Linked DNA regions of Homo sapiens. The protein of the gene in region 2 interacts with the protein of the main gene of each other region in a biochemical or structural test. Each region holds a gene or a part of one and is shown on either strand. Other genes may lie near its edges.

What was found. Proteins that work in one complex are often made in the same cells at the same time.
Region 1: the proteins of KHDRBS1 (region 2) and LYN form a complex in vitro, tested with the Homo sapiens proteins (3 studies listed by BioGRID and IntAct, with this or other methods).
Region 3: the proteins of KHDRBS1 (region 2) and NCK1 form a complex in vitro, tested with the Homo sapiens proteins (3 studies listed by BioGRID, with this or other methods).

The regions. Positions count from the first base shown.
Region 1 is NC_000008.11:56,008,835-56,014,669, forward strand, and holds the end of LYN (tyrosine-protein kinase Lyn), read left to right. Parts: intron 1-1,073; coding exon 1,074-1,276; 3' UTR 1,277-5,335; downstream 5,336-5,835. UniProt on the Homo sapiens protein: Non-receptor tyrosine-protein kinase that transmits signals from cell surface receptors and plays an important role in the regulation of innate and adaptive immune responses, hematopoiesis, responses to growth factors and cytokines, integrin signaling, but also responses to DNA damage and genotoxic agents.
Region 2 is NC_000001.11:32,009,017-32,016,886, reverse strand, and holds the start of KHDRBS1 (KH domain-containing, RNA-binding, signal transduction-associated protein 1), read right to left. Parts: upstream 3,020-7,870; 5' UTR 2,892-3,019; coding exon 2,510-2,891; intron 1-2,509. UniProt on the Homo sapiens protein: Recruited and tyrosine phosphorylated by several receptor systems, for example the T-cell, leptin and insulin receptors. Once phosphorylated, functions as an adapter protein in signal transduction cascades by binding to SH2 and SH3 domain-containing proteins.
Region 3 is NC_000003.12:136,949,208-136,952,106, reverse strand, and holds the end of NCK1 (SH2/SH3 adapter protein NCK1), read right to left. Parts: 3' UTR 501-2,899; downstream 1-500. UniProt on the Homo sapiens protein: Adapter protein which associates with tyrosine-phosphorylated growth factor receptors, such as KDR and PDGFRB, or their cellular substrates. Maintains low levels of EIF2S1 phosphorylation by promoting its dephosphorylation by PP1.

The sequences.
Region 1 (5,835 bases), on a different chromosome or scaffold from region 2:
GTGAAGTAGCTCCACTTGAGACTATGATTGGGGTTCAGTTTTCCTCCTCAATTAATATCTTGCTCTTAAAAGACAGTGACATCCACAAGATATGTAGCACAAACTACAGACAAGTGTCCTTCAGATTAACTGAACCATCATTATTTTCCAAATTAATCCCTAAGTTTTTAACTATTTGGCAAGCATGTAACCAATTTGTTGGGCTGACTTAAGGGTGCTGACTTTAAGTAAATGAAAATACCAATTATTAAATGAAAAGCCAATTTTTGAAAAATGTCCGTATAAGATAATATGTGGTAAAATTATTTTTTTCATAAATATACTACAAGTTGAAGCTGAAAGCATGCTACCCTGCAAACATAATTAAAGTTGAGAGTTAGGATTAGATTTGGGTGATTTATTTGAAATGTGAGGCAAGTCCAATATCCTTTTGTTATTAAAGAGAACTTGGCTGTGGCTCCTACTTAACAAATTTTGGCAAACTGAATGCTGTCTTGATCCCCTCCATGCTAAATTTATTTATTGAGTTGCTTGCAGAAATTTCCTTAGCTTCTATATTAGTTGGCAAGGGCTGCCATAACAATACAACACACTGGGTAATTTAAACAACAGACGTTTATTTTTCCGGGGTTCTGGAGTTTCAAAGTCCAAGGTCAAGGTGCTAGCCAGGTTGATTTCTCCTGAGGCCTCTCTCCTGGACTTGTAGATGGCTGCCTCCTCCCTGTGTCTTCACATGGTCTTTCCCCTATACTAGTCTGTGTTCTAATCTCCTCTTATAAGGATACTAGTCATATTGGATTAAGACCTACCCAAATGGCCTCATTTTAACTTAGTTACCTCTATAAAGGCCTTATCTCTAAATATGGTGCTGTCAATTCTGAGGTGTACGCGGGGTTAGGACTTCAACCTAGGAATTTTGGGAGGATGCTGTTCAACCCCTAACAGCCTCAGTAAAGCTTGTTTCAATCATGGTTACAGGATGTGAGGAGCAAAAAGACCACTGCAGTGCTTGACCCTCTGCCAGGTTTCTAAACGGCATGGGTTTCTGTTCTTTTTGTTTTTTTCCACCCTAGGGAGAACTAATGCCGACGTGATGACCGCCCTGTCCCAGGGCTACAGGATGCCCCGTGTGGAGAACTGCCCAGATGAGCTCTATGACATTATGAAAATGTGCTGGAAAGAAAAGGCAGAAGAGAGACCAACGTTTGACTACTTACAGAGCGTCCTGGATGATTTCTACACAGCCACGGAAGGGCAATACCAGCAGCAGCCTTAGAGCACAGGGAGACCCGTCCATTTGGCAGGGGTGGCTGCCTCATTTAGAGAGGAAAAGTAACCATCACTGGTTGCACTTATGATTTCATGTGCGGGGATCATCTGCCGTGCCTGGATCCTGAAATAGAGGCTAAATTACTCAGGAAGAACACCCTCTAAATGGGAAAGTATTCTGTACTCTTAGATGGATTCTCCACTCAGTTGCAACTTGGACTTGTCCTCAGCAGCTGGTAATCTTGCTCTGCTTGACAACATCTGAGTGCAGCCGTTTGAGAAGAAAACATCTATTCTCTCCAAAAATGCACCCAACTAGCTCTATGTTTACAAATGGACATAGGACTCAAAGTTTCAGAGACCATTGCAATGAATCCCCAATAATTGCAGAACTAAACTCATTTATAAAGCTAAAATAACCGGATATATACATAGCATGACATTTCTTTGTGCTTTGGCTTACTTGTTTAAAAAAAAAAAAAAACTAATCCAACCTGTTAGATTTTGCAGGTGAAGTCAGCAGCTTAAAAATGTCTTTCCCAGATTTCAATGATTTTTTTCCCCCTACCTCCCAAAATCTGAGACTGTTAAAACATTTTTCTTCTATGAACACTGCTCAGACCTGCTAGACATGCCATAGGAGTGGCGTGCACATCTCTCTCTCTTCCAGCAGGAGGAGCCCGTGAGCACGCACAGCTGCCCTGTCTGCTCACCCGAAGGCACCGGGCTCACCTGGACCTCCCAGGAAAGGGAGAAGAGCCTCAGAAACTGCTCTGTGTTTAGAAGGAATATTTTTAAGAGTCCAGCTTTTTCATTTCCACAATTTCCTATATCCAGATTTGTTTTGACAATGTAGTTTGGAAGAACTAAGATTCTAATCTCTGAAGAACCTTATAGGGCCTTCTAAAACATAAGAGTTTCCTTTGTTGCTTCAAATATTTGAACATTATGTTAAAGATCAAGTATTAATTTTAGTTGTACTCTAGAAAGCTAAAGTGCCACATTCGGGGCTATTTTTATGATTCAGCAATCTTTTCTAAATTGTGTAGCATGTGTATGAGACTATTTATACCCAAGGATATGAAGGAACATAAGTGACTACAAGGCTCTAATAAGCCACGGTGGCAGGAGGTTCAAGCGGTTCTGTTCACTAAATTTTTCTCCTGTAAGCTTTGAATGGAAACTTCTGTATCACATGATGTGTTTCACTTATGCTGTTGTGTATATACCTAATATTTCTATTTTTGATTTTATTTTAATACACCTCGTCCAATAACATCTCAAGCTTTTTATTTGCATTTACATTTTCAGCTGTGGTCAGTGTAAAAATTGGTCATCAGCTGGGGGCGGGGTGGTTAGAAGTGATTCAACAGAGCTACATGCTTTAAACTTGCCCAAGTTCTACCTCCTTCCTTTGAACATTTCAGATTGGAGAACCAAGGAGTTGATTGCCTGAACACCTGAACATCCGTTTATGGGGGCCAGATAGAATTTGTTTTCAAATAGGCTTAACAGGCATCATTAAAATTTCATTCTGTGTGTTTTGTTTAGGCTTGAGGTGCTTAGAAGATGGGATAAAATATTCTACTTTTTTCTAAATTTTAACTTTGTTTCCTATGTGATTTTTTTAAATGTCCTTTCTAAAATATTCTAAAATTATTGATTCACAAGTGCCATGTTCAGAACTATAGAATATTACTGTTACATAATGTCTGCACAGCTGGTCCCTTGATTCAGTGGTAAGGTTTTTGTGTACACCCCCCTGCTTGCATTTTATTTCAGAACCACAAGTATTACCCAATATGTTACATGGAGAGGAACTATAAAGAATCCCTAAGGCAAAAAGAAGTCTCTAGAAAATGACTAGAGGTTTTTTTTTTAGCATAACAAATTTATTTAAAGAAAATTATTAAATTTATCTTCGCCTTGTTTTGCTTCTCCCAGTTCCTCCTCTTCTTGCCATTTTCCACTTGTCTTTCCCTCCCAATCAAGCCTGTGATCCTTACCTCCATGTGGGCCCTTCACCAGCTTGGGCCTCATCTCTGGTGTCCAGCATGTGTGGAAGTCACACGTTCCCTTGATGAACAGCACACACAGTCTCCTTACTTAGCTATAGGTTTCCAGCCTCCCTGTGACAGACAGGCATAATGAGGGGCTGAATAGGTGTTTGTAGCATTTTCGGGTATCCAGTGGTGTGCAAAATGGCTCATGTCATCACACCTCAGGTTATTGTAGAGAACTGGAAAGACAGAATCCATACTCCCTACCGCCAAGATTCTGACTTAGCTGTTGTGCAGCGGGAGATGTATGTCAGTCTATTTTAAAAGCTTCTCCAGTCAGCTAGACACAGTGGCTCATGCCTGTAATCTCAGCACTTTGGGAGGCTAAGGCAGGAGGATCGCTTGAGCTCAGGAGTTAGACACCAGCCTGAGCAATATAGCAAGTCTCTACAAAAAATTTTAAAAATTAGCTAAGTGTGGTGGCACATACCTATGGTCCCAGCTACTCAGGAGGCTGAGGTGGGAGGATTGCTTGAGCCCAGGAAGTCAAGGCTGCAGTGAGCTATGATCGTGCCACTGCACTCCAGCCTGGGCAAGAGTGAGACCCTGTCTCAAAAAAAAAAACCAAAAAAACAAAAAAACCCTTCCCTGGTGAATATAATGTATGCTCAGTCTTGAGAGTCACCATTTGGTTTGACCCATATTACAAAGCCCAGCCTTCTTTTTCCTCAGATGGTTTCATTTCTCAAAGGGGAGTGGAAGAGAAGGAAGGAGGAAAAAAACGTGCCTTCCTTCCTGGTGAACATGAAGCTCACTGAACCTAAAGGAGACTCACAGGCTAGAAACCAGTGTCCTTAGTAGTAGGGGCCACCTGGGGCTTCCGTGGCTTCTCCAGGCATACCTCCTGAGGTTCCACAGAATCCCCTTGCAGAAAGTACTTCTGATGAGCCACTGGGAACGTGTACTGTCCAAGCCCCCTTCTAGGGGAAATTCACTGCCACAGAAGCCAGCAGCCCTGGCTGTCCCAAGGGTGCATAAAAGGATAATAACTAAAAGGAGGGAATTAATTTTGTTGCCTACACCAGGGATAGATCGAGGGCACTGAAAGCATCATAAGTATAAACTCATCTCCACGTCAGCTTGTGGAGTCTGCTTTCTCGCTCTCTCTTTTTTTTTTTTTTTTGACAGAGTCTCACTCTGTCACGCAGGCTAGAGTTGCAGTGGTGCGATCTCAGCTCATTGCAACCTCCCCCTCTCTGGTTGGAGCGATTCTTCTCCTGCCTCAGCCTCCCTAGTAGCTGGAACTACAGGCACACACCATCTCGCCTGGCTAATTTTTGTATTTTTAGTAGAGATGGGGTTTCACCATGTTAGCCAGGCTGGTCTCGAACTCCTGACCTCAGGCGATCCGCCTGCCTCGGCTTCCCAAAGTGCTGGGATTACAAGTGTGAGCCACTGTGCCCGGTCGGGGTCTGCTTTCTCTTTATTCCCCGTCCTCTCACAAACTACATCCAGGGGCGGTAGCTGCTAAAAGGACTCAATTCTGCAACCTCAGCTTCTGACACCTTCAAATAAATTAAATGCTGGTCCTAGGGCTCGCTCCCCAGCTCTTCTGATGTCACTGCCAGGTTCCACAGCCAGTTGTCGGACATCTCCTGCTTCCTCAGCCAAGAACACCTCTCAGATGAGATCAAACCGCCCAGCTTTCCTCTTAGCATCTTCCTTTATTTTCCACTTCTGGCTGGTGGAAGAGAGATCGTAGTTCTCTATTCCCTACATTTTAACTCCACGAATATTTTAGATTAAGTGAAGTCTTGCTGTTCTTCCTGATGGAAATGGTAATTATAAACATACAAAGATACCCATACACACATTCTTTACTCAGGGCCCTCTTGTGCTTTGGCAAATGATAAAAATTATCTCTAACTCACACAACGACCCTGGAAGATCTGGACAATGCTATCACTATTTCACAGCTGAGAGATCGGGAGCATTTAAAGCCACAGAAGGAATAGATTGGCTTCGCTTCATATTGTTTCCTTGTGAAATAAAACCAGTGAAACACCTTTGTGTAGAATCTCCCTGACTCAGCTGAGTGTTCTGAGTAAGCAAGGGTATTACTTACAAGATGCACCATTTGAGCCCACACAGATGGGAGGGGAAATTTTTCCTTAAGTAATTTTATTTGGGTAGAAAAGTAATGCAAGAATTTAACTTACCATTCACACTTTTAAAGACAATTTGTAGAGACTACACTTCAGAATAAAATGTTTTGGCCAGCTACAGTGGCTCACACCTGTAATCACAATACTTTGGAGGGGCTGAATCAGGACGATCACTTGAGGCCAGGAGTTTGAGACCAGCCAGGACAACATTATGAGACCCTGTCTCTACAAAAAAAAAAATTAAGTTTCAGTAGCATTTATGTTCCATTTCATAACATGAATGTTACTAAAACTGATAAAAATTTTATCCTGAAAAGTTTTAACTTGATAGACGTGTAAGAGGAAAGCCTTCCAATTTAATTTCCTGTGTGCTGATAAATCTATTAAATACTTCAAGTCAG
Region 2 (7,870 bases):
CTCTTCAAGGCATAGAAGATACAACGGTGAACAAAGTAGACAAAAGATTCCTGCGCTCTGGTGGAGCTGACATTCTAGCCATGGAGAATGGGTAATCAACAAACAAATACTGTACATAACGACAATATAGTGCAACAGATGCTGATAGTGAAAAATAAAGTAAACCCAGGAAAGGAAGAGGAGAGCTGTGTAGGTGGTACAGGAAGAGTGCTCAGGGTCTCACGGTACCTTATTGGGAATGGTCAAAGGTGCCTGGAGGAGCCACAGTCCCAAGCAGTAGACTCTGCTCTCTGGTTTCCTTTCTGTATCTTAGCCTTATCATCTTCACTGCCCTGTTAACACTGTGATACTTTCAAATATACTTTTTTTTTTTTGGTCACCTATCATCCCAGATAGATTTTAATATTTTGTCCAACTATAGCTTAAAGTACAATTTGCAGCAGGCACTATAGTGAGGGAACGGGGAAGGTGTGTAGACTGACCAAAAATCCTGGTTACGATGCTTACTAATTTTGTTACCTTAGGCAAATTATTAATCTCTGGGTGTCTTGGTTTCCTCATCTGTATAAGTGAGGATAATAAAAGTAAGTTCTCATTTCATTTTATAGGTTAAATATTTAATGTAAAGTGCTCAGACCTCAAACATTAAGTGTTAGCTATATTTTTCTTCCGTGTGTTCTTTTCTTTTTTTTTTTTTTTTCCTTTTTTGAGATGGAGTTTAGCTCTTGTTGCCCAGGCTGGAGTGTAATGGCGCAATCTGGGCTCCCTGCAACCTTCGCTTCCCAGGTTCAAGTGATTTTCCTGCCTCAGCTTCCAAAGTAGCTGGGATCACAGGCGTGCGCCACCACGCGAAGCTAATTTTGTATTTTTAGTAGAGACGGGGTTTCACCATGTTGATCAGGCTGGTCTCCAACTCCTGACCTCGCGATCAGCCCGTCTCGGCCTCCCAAAGTGCTGGGATTACAGGCGTGAGCCACCGCGCCTGCCCCTTCCATGTGATCTTACCAGAGCTTAAATACTACTATTCTATCTTCTCAAAGTCTCACTTCCGCACAATGGGTTGTGACTTCACTGCAATCCCCTTGCAAGATAATTCAGAAATACCTTAAAAGCCAGGCTCAACATATATTAACACTTATCCATGCTAGAAAGAATTCATACATCCCAAACCAACAGTAACCTCAATCACATTTCTCCAATTTCAGTTGGGTTTAAAAAAAATACATCCAGAAAGCCCAAGTTAAAAATAAAGAGCACTCTCTTAGTTAAGCAGTGAGGGGAGACTGAAAATTAAAAGTAACTTTTAAGGATCAACAGTTTTTGACAGTTATCTTAAGAAAGCATAAAAGATGAACACCACACTGGTAAAGATCCCTTACCTTACAGTGTTGGGAGACAGAGAACAAAGGGAGGGAGATAATATTTTCATAATGAACTGTCCATTATATTAACCTTGCCAAAGAGTCCAACTACTCATTCAGTGTTGAAGGATGTGAATTTTTACTTGCTTAGTAAAATTTAGGTATCATAAAAAATATTAAAATAATATTTTAACTAGAAGCGAAAGTCAGACAGCTTTAGGGAAAAATCAGAGCGACTAGGTGATTGGCCAGTGCTGATGAGGAAAAGAGCGCTAACCTACAGAACAAAGACTCTCATTTCTAATCTATTTCACTACTGAATCAAAAATGTAAAAAACAGCAACAAAAAGGCCAAGCCTTTCAGTACAAGCATCATGCAACTTCTCTCAATTTCTGTCCATCTCGTTGGGAAACGTCATGTGAACTACGCGGGAGTCCCTATCGTCCCATTTCACTGTCTCTAGGGTTACTTCACTCCTTCAACGACAGTGAACACACGGTGTAAAATGGCTCAGTAGCAATTCTTATTTTATCAGCCTTAGTCGGAAATCTGATTCGGAAACCTCAAGCTCCGATCCACATAAATCGCTCCTTCCTCCCAGCAACTTAAGCTGCGGTTACCGCTAAGTCCGGCTCGGCCCCAGCGACAGCAAGGCACTGGACAGGGCATTCCAGCCTCACCCCACCTCACCTCGGCCCTTCCTCCCACGGTCCCTCCCCGCTCTGGCTGTCTTCACCTCCTACACCTCGGTCGAGGCGCTCATCGCCACCCGCGATCAAAAAGGGTTTCCCTTCAGGGAAAGGGGGAAATGAAGGTTCATTTCTGGAAGAATCTGCGCGCCCGGCAGCCGCAAGAGGAGGGAGGAGGGAAGAGTCGGGAAAGGGGCGGGGAGCTCAGCACTATCCATCAAGACATTAGCGCTAGGGGATCGCAAAGTCGCCTTCGGGCCTCCACTGCAGCCTAGAAATTCTCCCACGCACTCCGGGCTGAGGTGGGAATGTGGAATCCAGGCTCCCAAAAATGAGGATGAGACCGGAACTCCCGACTGCCTCGGTCCCGAGGGGGCGGGAAGCGAGAGGAACAAAGCCAGGGCCACTCATGCCCGGGATGGCCGGGCGACCCAGAGGGACACGGGAGGCCCCCTTACCTGCCGTCAGCAGCTGCATGGCGTGAGTGAAGGACGGGTCGAGCGAGTCCTTCTCGGCCATGAGTTCGGGCAGGTACTTGTTCTCTGGCTCCATCTTGACCGAGGCTGTGGCCGAGGGGGGCAGCAGCGGGGTCGGCGCTGGCCCGCCCACTGTCGCGTCGGGACCCGTGGCCGAGGGCGGCAGCAGCGGTGGCGGCTGCGTGGCGGGCGAGGCCCGGGCGCCCCCGCGGGATCCCCCTCCGCCTCCCCGGGACCGGTGAGGCAGCGGCGGCTGCCGAGACGGCGTCTGACGCACCGAGGGGTGGGCACCGGAGGGGTCCATGGAGCCGCTACGGCCCGAAGACCGGCTCATGCGCGCGGCGGGGTCGTCCCGGCGCTGCATCTGGGAGGATGTGCGATCCAAGGAGCGAGAAAGCGACGCGGCAGCGACGGAGGCCCGAGCGGCGGTTGGCGGGGGTGGCAGAGCGGGAGCGGTAGCGACCGAAGCCGACCCGAGCGACCCAGCGAGAGAGAGCACCGGAAATGAGGCGGCGCGCGTGCGCAGCCAGCCACCGGCACCGCCCTTGGGTTTCTCCGCGGAGAACAAAGTCCCCAGTCCGGCCACGGCGCCTGCGCACCGCCGCGGCGTCCGAGAAGTCGCCTCCCGACTCTGGCTTTCCCTCCGCTCCCGCCAGGCCAGAGCTTGATGCGCATGCGCGGGAGGCAGTGGGCTCCGTTCGTTTCGTTTTCCACGTGACTCGGCGCTAGCGGAACACGTGTCTCCTCCCCTTTCTGGCGTGGAGGGGGCGGGAGCTGTGGAATGTCTTTGTCTGCGCGCGGGCCCGCGGAGTGTGGGGCGGGAGACCTGTTACTCGCGGGGCCACGCCCTCTCCAACGGCTGAGCAGTGGAGGGAGGCTGTGGGGAGTGGGGTGGGGGGCGGTCACCGAAGTAAGGAAGTAAAAGACTGCCGAGAGGGTCACGGAAAGGGGAGGGAGAGAGAATTGAGACCGCCTGGGGAGGAAGACAGGAGTGAGACAGACTGCACAGGGAGAAAGGAAGGCTGAGGGAGAGTCTGATGCAGGGGGAAAGTTGGGGAAGGGAAACCTGGAGGGAGAAATTGAGGAAGGACGGCTTGGTGGAAACACTGAAGGCGATTGGAGTACTTGAACTAAGAGGGATGGTTCAGATCAGAGATCTGAAGTCTAGCAAAGAAAAGGGTCCCAGACATCAGGGAACACAAGAAGTTGTTTCCAGTATATATATTTCCAGTATTACATATATTCCAGTCGGTTCTAAAACGGTTGACATTGTTGGTACGGGAAATCTTAAGCAGCATTTTAGCTCTTTTTACATATTTTACTGCTTTTTCTGAATTGTGTTTGTTTTGTTTCGCCGTCATTATTGCCAATTAAGTGTTTCTTCCTTCAAAAAGTGAGGTAGAGACCAGATCCTTAATCCACGTTGGTTGCATCATTAGGATGGCTTCTTCTACCACTCCAGACTTGCTCAAAGAGACCCTTGCCACTACTCTCAAAGGCAAGGTACATAGTGGACAGTCGCCTACGACGTTCTCCACATCCTGGTGTGCTATATGCAAGTGGAGCCTTAGGTCCCTACTTGTCCCATAAGCCATCAAAAGCCTGGTGCCCTCTCTAACTTTCCCTTCCCTCCGCAGATTATTTTCTTCTTCCATTTAAAGCACTCACTCCCATCTCTTTTCCTTCTGGATTAGTTCTCCTAATGAGCCCACACTTTTCAAAAGTCTTTGGGGACCGGTGCGGTGGCTTATGCCTGTAATCCCAGCACTTTGGGAGGCCTAGGTGGGAGGATTACTTGAGGCTAGGAGTTCGAGAGCAGCCTGGACAATATAATGAGACCTCATCTCTACAATAAAAAAAGTTTCCGCCCGGCTTGGTGGCTCATGCCTGTGATCCCAACACTTTGGGAGGCCGAGGTGGGCAAATCACCTGAGGCCAGGAGTTCGAGACCAACTTGGCCAACATGATGAAACCCCATCTTTACTAAAAATATAAAAATTAGCCGGGTGTGGTGGTGCATACCTGTAATCCCAGCTACTTGGGAGGCTGAGGCAGGAGAATTGCTTGAACCAGGGACGCGGAGGCTGCCGTGAGCCGAGATCACGCCACTGCACTCCAGCCTGGGCAACAGAGCGAGACTACGTCTCAAAAAAAAAAAAAAAGGAAAAAAAGGTTTATTTGGAAATTGTCTTCTGAGTGCCTGGAAACTTGATTTTTGGATGTGAAGCTTAGAACCCTTTAACTAGAGAACCTAAAGGCCTTCTTTAAGGGGTTAAGGGAGAGGATTTCCAAATTACCCACAGAAATGAAAACAAAACACGTATCTACATAAATTATATATATATAATATAAAATATAGGCCAGATGCGATGGCTCATGCTTGTAATCCCAGCACTTTGGGAAACCGAGGCGGGCAGATCACAAGGTCAAGAGATCGAGACCATCCTGGCCAACATTGTGAAACCCCGTCTCTACTAAAAATACAAAAATTAGCTGGGTGTGGTGGTGTGCCTGTAGTCCCAGCTACTCAGGAGGCTGAGGCAGAAGAATCGCTTGAACCCAGGAGGCGGAGGTTGCAGTGAGCTGAGATTGCAGCACTGCACTCCAGCCTGGGGGACAGTGCGAGACTCTGTCTTGGGAAAAAAAAGAAAGAAAGAAAGAAATTAGCTGAGTGTGGTGGCGTGCACCTGTTGTCCCCAGCTACTTGAGAGACTGAGGTGGGAAGATTGCTGCTTGAGCCTGGGAAATTGAGACTACAGTGAGCAACGACTGCCCCACTGCACTCAGCCTGGACGACAGAGTGAGACCTTGTCTCAAAAAAAAAAAAAAAAAAAAAAAAAAAAAAAAAAAAAAGGCCAGTGCGGTGGCCCACTCCTGTAATCCCAGCACTTTGGGAGGCCAAAGTGGGTAGATCACCTGAGGTCAGGAGTTCAAGACCAGCCTGGCTAATACAGTGAAACCCCATCTCTACTAAAAACATAAAAAAGTTAGCTGAACGTGGTGGCATGCACCTGTAATCCCAGCTACTTGGGAGGCTGAGGCAGAAGAATTGCTTGAACCCGGGAGGTGGAGGTTACAGTGAGCCGAGATCGCGCCACACTGCACTCCAGCCTGGGCAACAGAGTCAGACTCCGTGTCAAAAAGAAAAAAGAAACGAAAAAATTAAGTGCTGTTGGAGTTCAATGCAGAAGATAGATTTTGGCCAAGGAAGAATAAGTTCCAGGCAAAGGGAAGTGGAATAAATGAGCAGAGATGAGAACGTGGGAAATGTGTTCAGGGAATGGGAGTAATCCAGTGTCAGACTTGAAGGAATAGGTGGGTTGAGAGAGCAACTGCATGAAGAGGGGGGAAGGGGCAAGGAGAATTTACAGTTCCTTTGCAACTCATTTCCACTGCCACCCTTGAAGATCCTTCTTGAGTGGTGGTGTTACAAATGGCTGAAGCGTCCTTGCCCTGTAATGAGATGCCCAAATAGAGATCCCTTGAGCTGAGGCTAATAAAACTTTGATAAAGGTTTGTCTGAGAAGGAGCTGGGTAGTGGTATCTATGGCCTTTCTAGACTAGAATCAACAGTTACTGCATATGTATATCAAAACATGTTGTAGCCATACCTATATACAATTTTAAAAACACTGGAAACAAAACAAAAAATAACCCTCAGTCTTTCTGGGTGCTTGCCAGATCTTTACTTGCTTTCCCTGAGAGTAGGCTGAGCGGGAGAGATGTGCTCTTCTTCCAGGCGAGAACCCTAAAGGTAATCTCAGGCCAAGAGTGGTTGAGGTTGCGGTGTATGTATCCACTAAGTGATGCAGCAGCCTTCTATTTTGGGGGCCCTTCTCAGGGTAGGGAAGAGTAATTTCTGCTCTGAAAGCCTAGAAGTCTGGAGTTTATTTTGTGTTCACCACAGTATGCTGCCCCAGGTCCACCTGAAGGTTAACAACCATGTGAAAAGACTAACGTTGGAGTGGGGCAAATTCAAACAACCCGGCAATGCCTTGTCCTCACTGTGTATCATTTGGAAGACCTCTGAAACTTAGTTTTCTCTTCTATAAAGTGGGGTAATGCCATCTACCTTGAAGGCTTATTGTGAACATTAACAAATATCAGTGTAAACCTCCTGATAGTAGGGCTTATAAACAGAAGTAATCACTATTATACCCTTTAGTACCTGATGAAGATTTGTGGGTGCTTTATGTTGGCTATGGATCTGAAAGTCCTACTCTCTCTCTCCTTTTTTTTTTTTTTTTTTTTTTTTTTGAGATGGAGTCTTGCTCTGTCACCCAGGCTGGAGTGCAGTGGCAGGATCTCAGCTCACTACAAGCTCCACCTCCTGGGTTCACGCCATTCTCCTGCCTCAGCCTCCCGGGTAGCTGGGACTACAGCTCACCACCATGCCCAGCTAATTTTTTTGTATTTTTAGTAGAGACAGTGTTTCACCGTGTTAGCCAGGATGGTCTCGATCTCCTGACCTCATGATCCGCCCGCCTCAGCCTCCCAAAGTGCTGGGGTTACAGGCATGAGCCACCGCGCCTGGCCAAGTCCTACTCTCTAATCTGTATAATTTTCACTGAGTATAGCTAGGCTTGTTTTGGGGGGAGGAGGAGGTTCCAAAAAGAGCAAGTTTCTTCTACCCTTAATCCAGTTACTATGGTATAGGATACAGCAGCAGTGCATAATGGTTCAGATGGAGGTTGGTAGCTCTGCCTCTTACCTGCTGGGTGATTGAGCACAGTGTTTTGCTTTGCTGCATTAGTCAGGATTCTTTAGAGAGACAGAATAAATACAGTATATAGATAGATGTACACATTCAAGAGGGGACTTGTGAGGGCAATTGGTTCACATGATTATGGAGGCTGAGAAGTCCCATTGGAGGCCTTCTGCAAGCTGGAGACCCTGGCAAGCCGGTCGTGTGGCTCAGTCCAAATCTGAGATCCTCAGAACCAAGGAAGCCAGTGGTGTGATGCTTAGAGGATGAAGGCCTGAGAACCCAGGGGCTGCTGGTGTAAGTCCTGGAGTCCAAGGGCTGAAGAGCATGGGGATCTAATGTCTAAGGACAGGAGAAGAAGAGTGTCCTAGCTCCAGGAAGAGAGACAGGAAATCCCTTCTTTGCCTTTTGTGTTCATTCTGGGCCCTAGCCCATTAGCTGGCGCCCGCCCACATTGAGGGCGGATCTGTACCATTCAGTCCACTCACAGGCCACTCTCTTCTGGGAACACACTCACAGACACACCCAGAAATAATGCTTTATCAGTCCTCTGGGTATTCCTTAATCCGGTGAAGTTGACACCGAAAATTAACCATCACACTAGCTCAGACTCCTCTTCCCTCTCCTTGATAAAACAG
Region 3 (2,899 bases), on a different chromosome or scaffold from region 2:
CCATGTTATAGGAAAAACAGGGAGAGTAAACTGCATCTGGAGATCTCAACTAGGGGGATAAGGGTTGGGAGTGTGAAAGTTAATTATACAAATTGGGTAATTATTGTCATACCCAACCAAATCAGATTCAATGCATTAAGGGGAAAAAGTACATGAAGGACATAGCAGCTGCTCCAAGAACTCAGTTTTCCACAAGCCCAGCTACTTAAACAGACTACTGTAAACCCTAAGACCAGTTTTACCTAGTAGCTGCTGAAATGACCTGCTGTGACTCTAAGACTGGTTTTACCTATCACTGTCACACACCAATCAGAGCTTGCCACCTCCCAAAAACTTATCTAGAACCAATGAGTTTTCTTTCAAAACATACGTAACATTTCTCTTTATAATAAAACTCCCCATCTTCTCTGTTCTTTAGACATACCAAAAACTACTGTCTGTGTATATGCCCTGAATTACAATTCTTGCTTCCCAAATAAAACGTTTCAGAGATTCGTCTCTATATTTTGACTTGAAAGAAGACTTTATTATACTGTTTGAATTTTTTCACCATGTGCACTGGTAAAGATAAGAGGACCATCCATATTAGATTCCAGCTCATTGTTGACTTGTGGGAATTCAACTCATGTTATTAGCTTCTCATTTTTAAAGGGAAACAAGAAGTCTGAATTTTATGTGAAACTCCCTGATTTTTAAATGTTGGCAATTAATTTTTTAAAGCACTGTGTGGGTTGAACAACATTTCTGTATAAGGCCACTGTGTTTAGATGTACCCTGAAGAAGGTACCCCAGCAACAAGGTGGGAGTGAAATTCAAACTTCTAGAGAAGGGCTGGGCCTGCCTAGAGAATTCTCACAAACGTGCTACAGAGACTGTGACAACTCTGCTTCTATGCAACCTCTGGATTATATGGTAGGACATTACAGCTGGAGATAATTTAAGTGCCATATTCTGCAAGAATGACCTTATTCTAACAACCCAAGTTGCCCATCTGCTAGGCCTATTTATTCTTCTAGCAATGGCAATAGATTGCATGAAGCCTATTTTGTTTAGCAGTATTATTTGTCACTAATAGTGCAAGGTGCATGTGTTAACTGTATAGTGATATATGTGTAATATACATGTGTGAATATATATTCAGCTGAATCCTAAGGTTTTATGACTAAATAAGGGACACAATGGCATTTGTTTTTGTCACAAAGCTTATATCATGTTCTAAAAAACCTTCTAAGATTTTGGGGAAGTTATTTGTAGAAGTGAGTTAGGCAGGGTTCCATCTGACACATGTATTTAAATTTGAAACTAAGCATTCTCCTCATGTGGAAGAAAACTTCTGTAATATTGCCCTTCCCAGGACTCTCCTCCTAGTCTAAAACCAAGCATACACAGAGTAGTGTGTCACGATACAGACACCAGGCTGGGAATAAGGAAACTTGGTTTCTTATACAAGTATTGTTACTATCTAGCTATGTAGAGTTTTCCAGGGTTGTTTCAGTTCTTAAAGTTACTTCAAGTATTATAAAAACAGTCACTGGTATAAGCATTGGATTAAGACTTTTTAAAAATTGGTAAAATATTTAAGTACAAAATAAGTAGCTTCCAGCGAGGTTTTTATACCATAGTAAGAGCACACAATAGATATTACTAGCACACATGGGTTATCTGGGAGCGCTATAGCTACAATAAACCTAATTATGGAACAGAAATTTGCATTCTGTTTCCAGTGCTACTACACTCCTACTTTCTCAAAAGTCTGCTCTATTAATATCAGCTCAGTGCAGTTTACTATGAATAGTTTATGTCTGTGATGCAAAGCATTAATTGTTCTCTTTTTACAAACATACATTTTTTTCATAAGGAAGACTGGGGGAAAACCCAGAAACATACAGAGAAAAGGAAAGCATCATCAAATATATGTTAAAAATTAAGATGATGTTTACTACTAGTCATCCTACAACAATTTAAAGTTTTCCTCAATTTATATTCATTTGATTTTACAGCAAAGATAAGCATACATGATTTTTATTTCCATTAAAAACTTAACTACTAATAATTACCCTCAACAAAGGAGTACTGAGTTAGAAAAATAATAGAATATGAACTAAAATGTTTTAAAAGCAGATGTAATAGAGATGAAAATTTGTCTTAATTATATTTGGTCACTTCTGTTGCTTAGTGGGAGAAGCCATGGCTGCCACCCAGTGGCAACATAAGTCTTTAAATGATTTTAAGATTTAAATAATATTTAAAACATTGATAAAAAAAATTCACAAGTTACACAACTTCAATTTTACCATCAGTAATTCTGGCGTATTAGATATCTATTTATAACAGCAAAGAATTAAAACATCCATATGCTTAGGCAGCATTAGGGAATTTGTTGAAAGTATCATACGACATCCTACTCAGTTATGTGGCTTTAGTATTTTTCAATTAAAATACTGATGGCTACTTTACTTAAATTTAAATCTCCAGAATAATAGGGGGACAAATTATGACCATAAAATACAACTGGTTTTCTTCTATAGCCTACAGAAGCAGATTGGCCTCTTATCCATACACCCAAATTCCTACTTGGTTAAAAAACAAATTAAAAAATTAAAAATAATATAATTTTCCCTAACCATGAGCACATTCTATTTTTTCCTCAGGTATACATCAGTTTTAGTGTCCCAATCAACAAAACTTAAAGCTGAAAAGAGGAAATGAAAATAGGTAATACCATTCCTGACAATTACTGATATTTAGTGAGGAGAAAAAAACAAGTATCTCACTGCTTCCTGTTTTTGCAAAACTTGGCCATAACTTATTTCCCACTGGCATAAATATAACATGTCCTAATACAAGATGCTCTAGAGGTAAAATAATACAAGTGGGATTAAAAAAATAAATAACACTA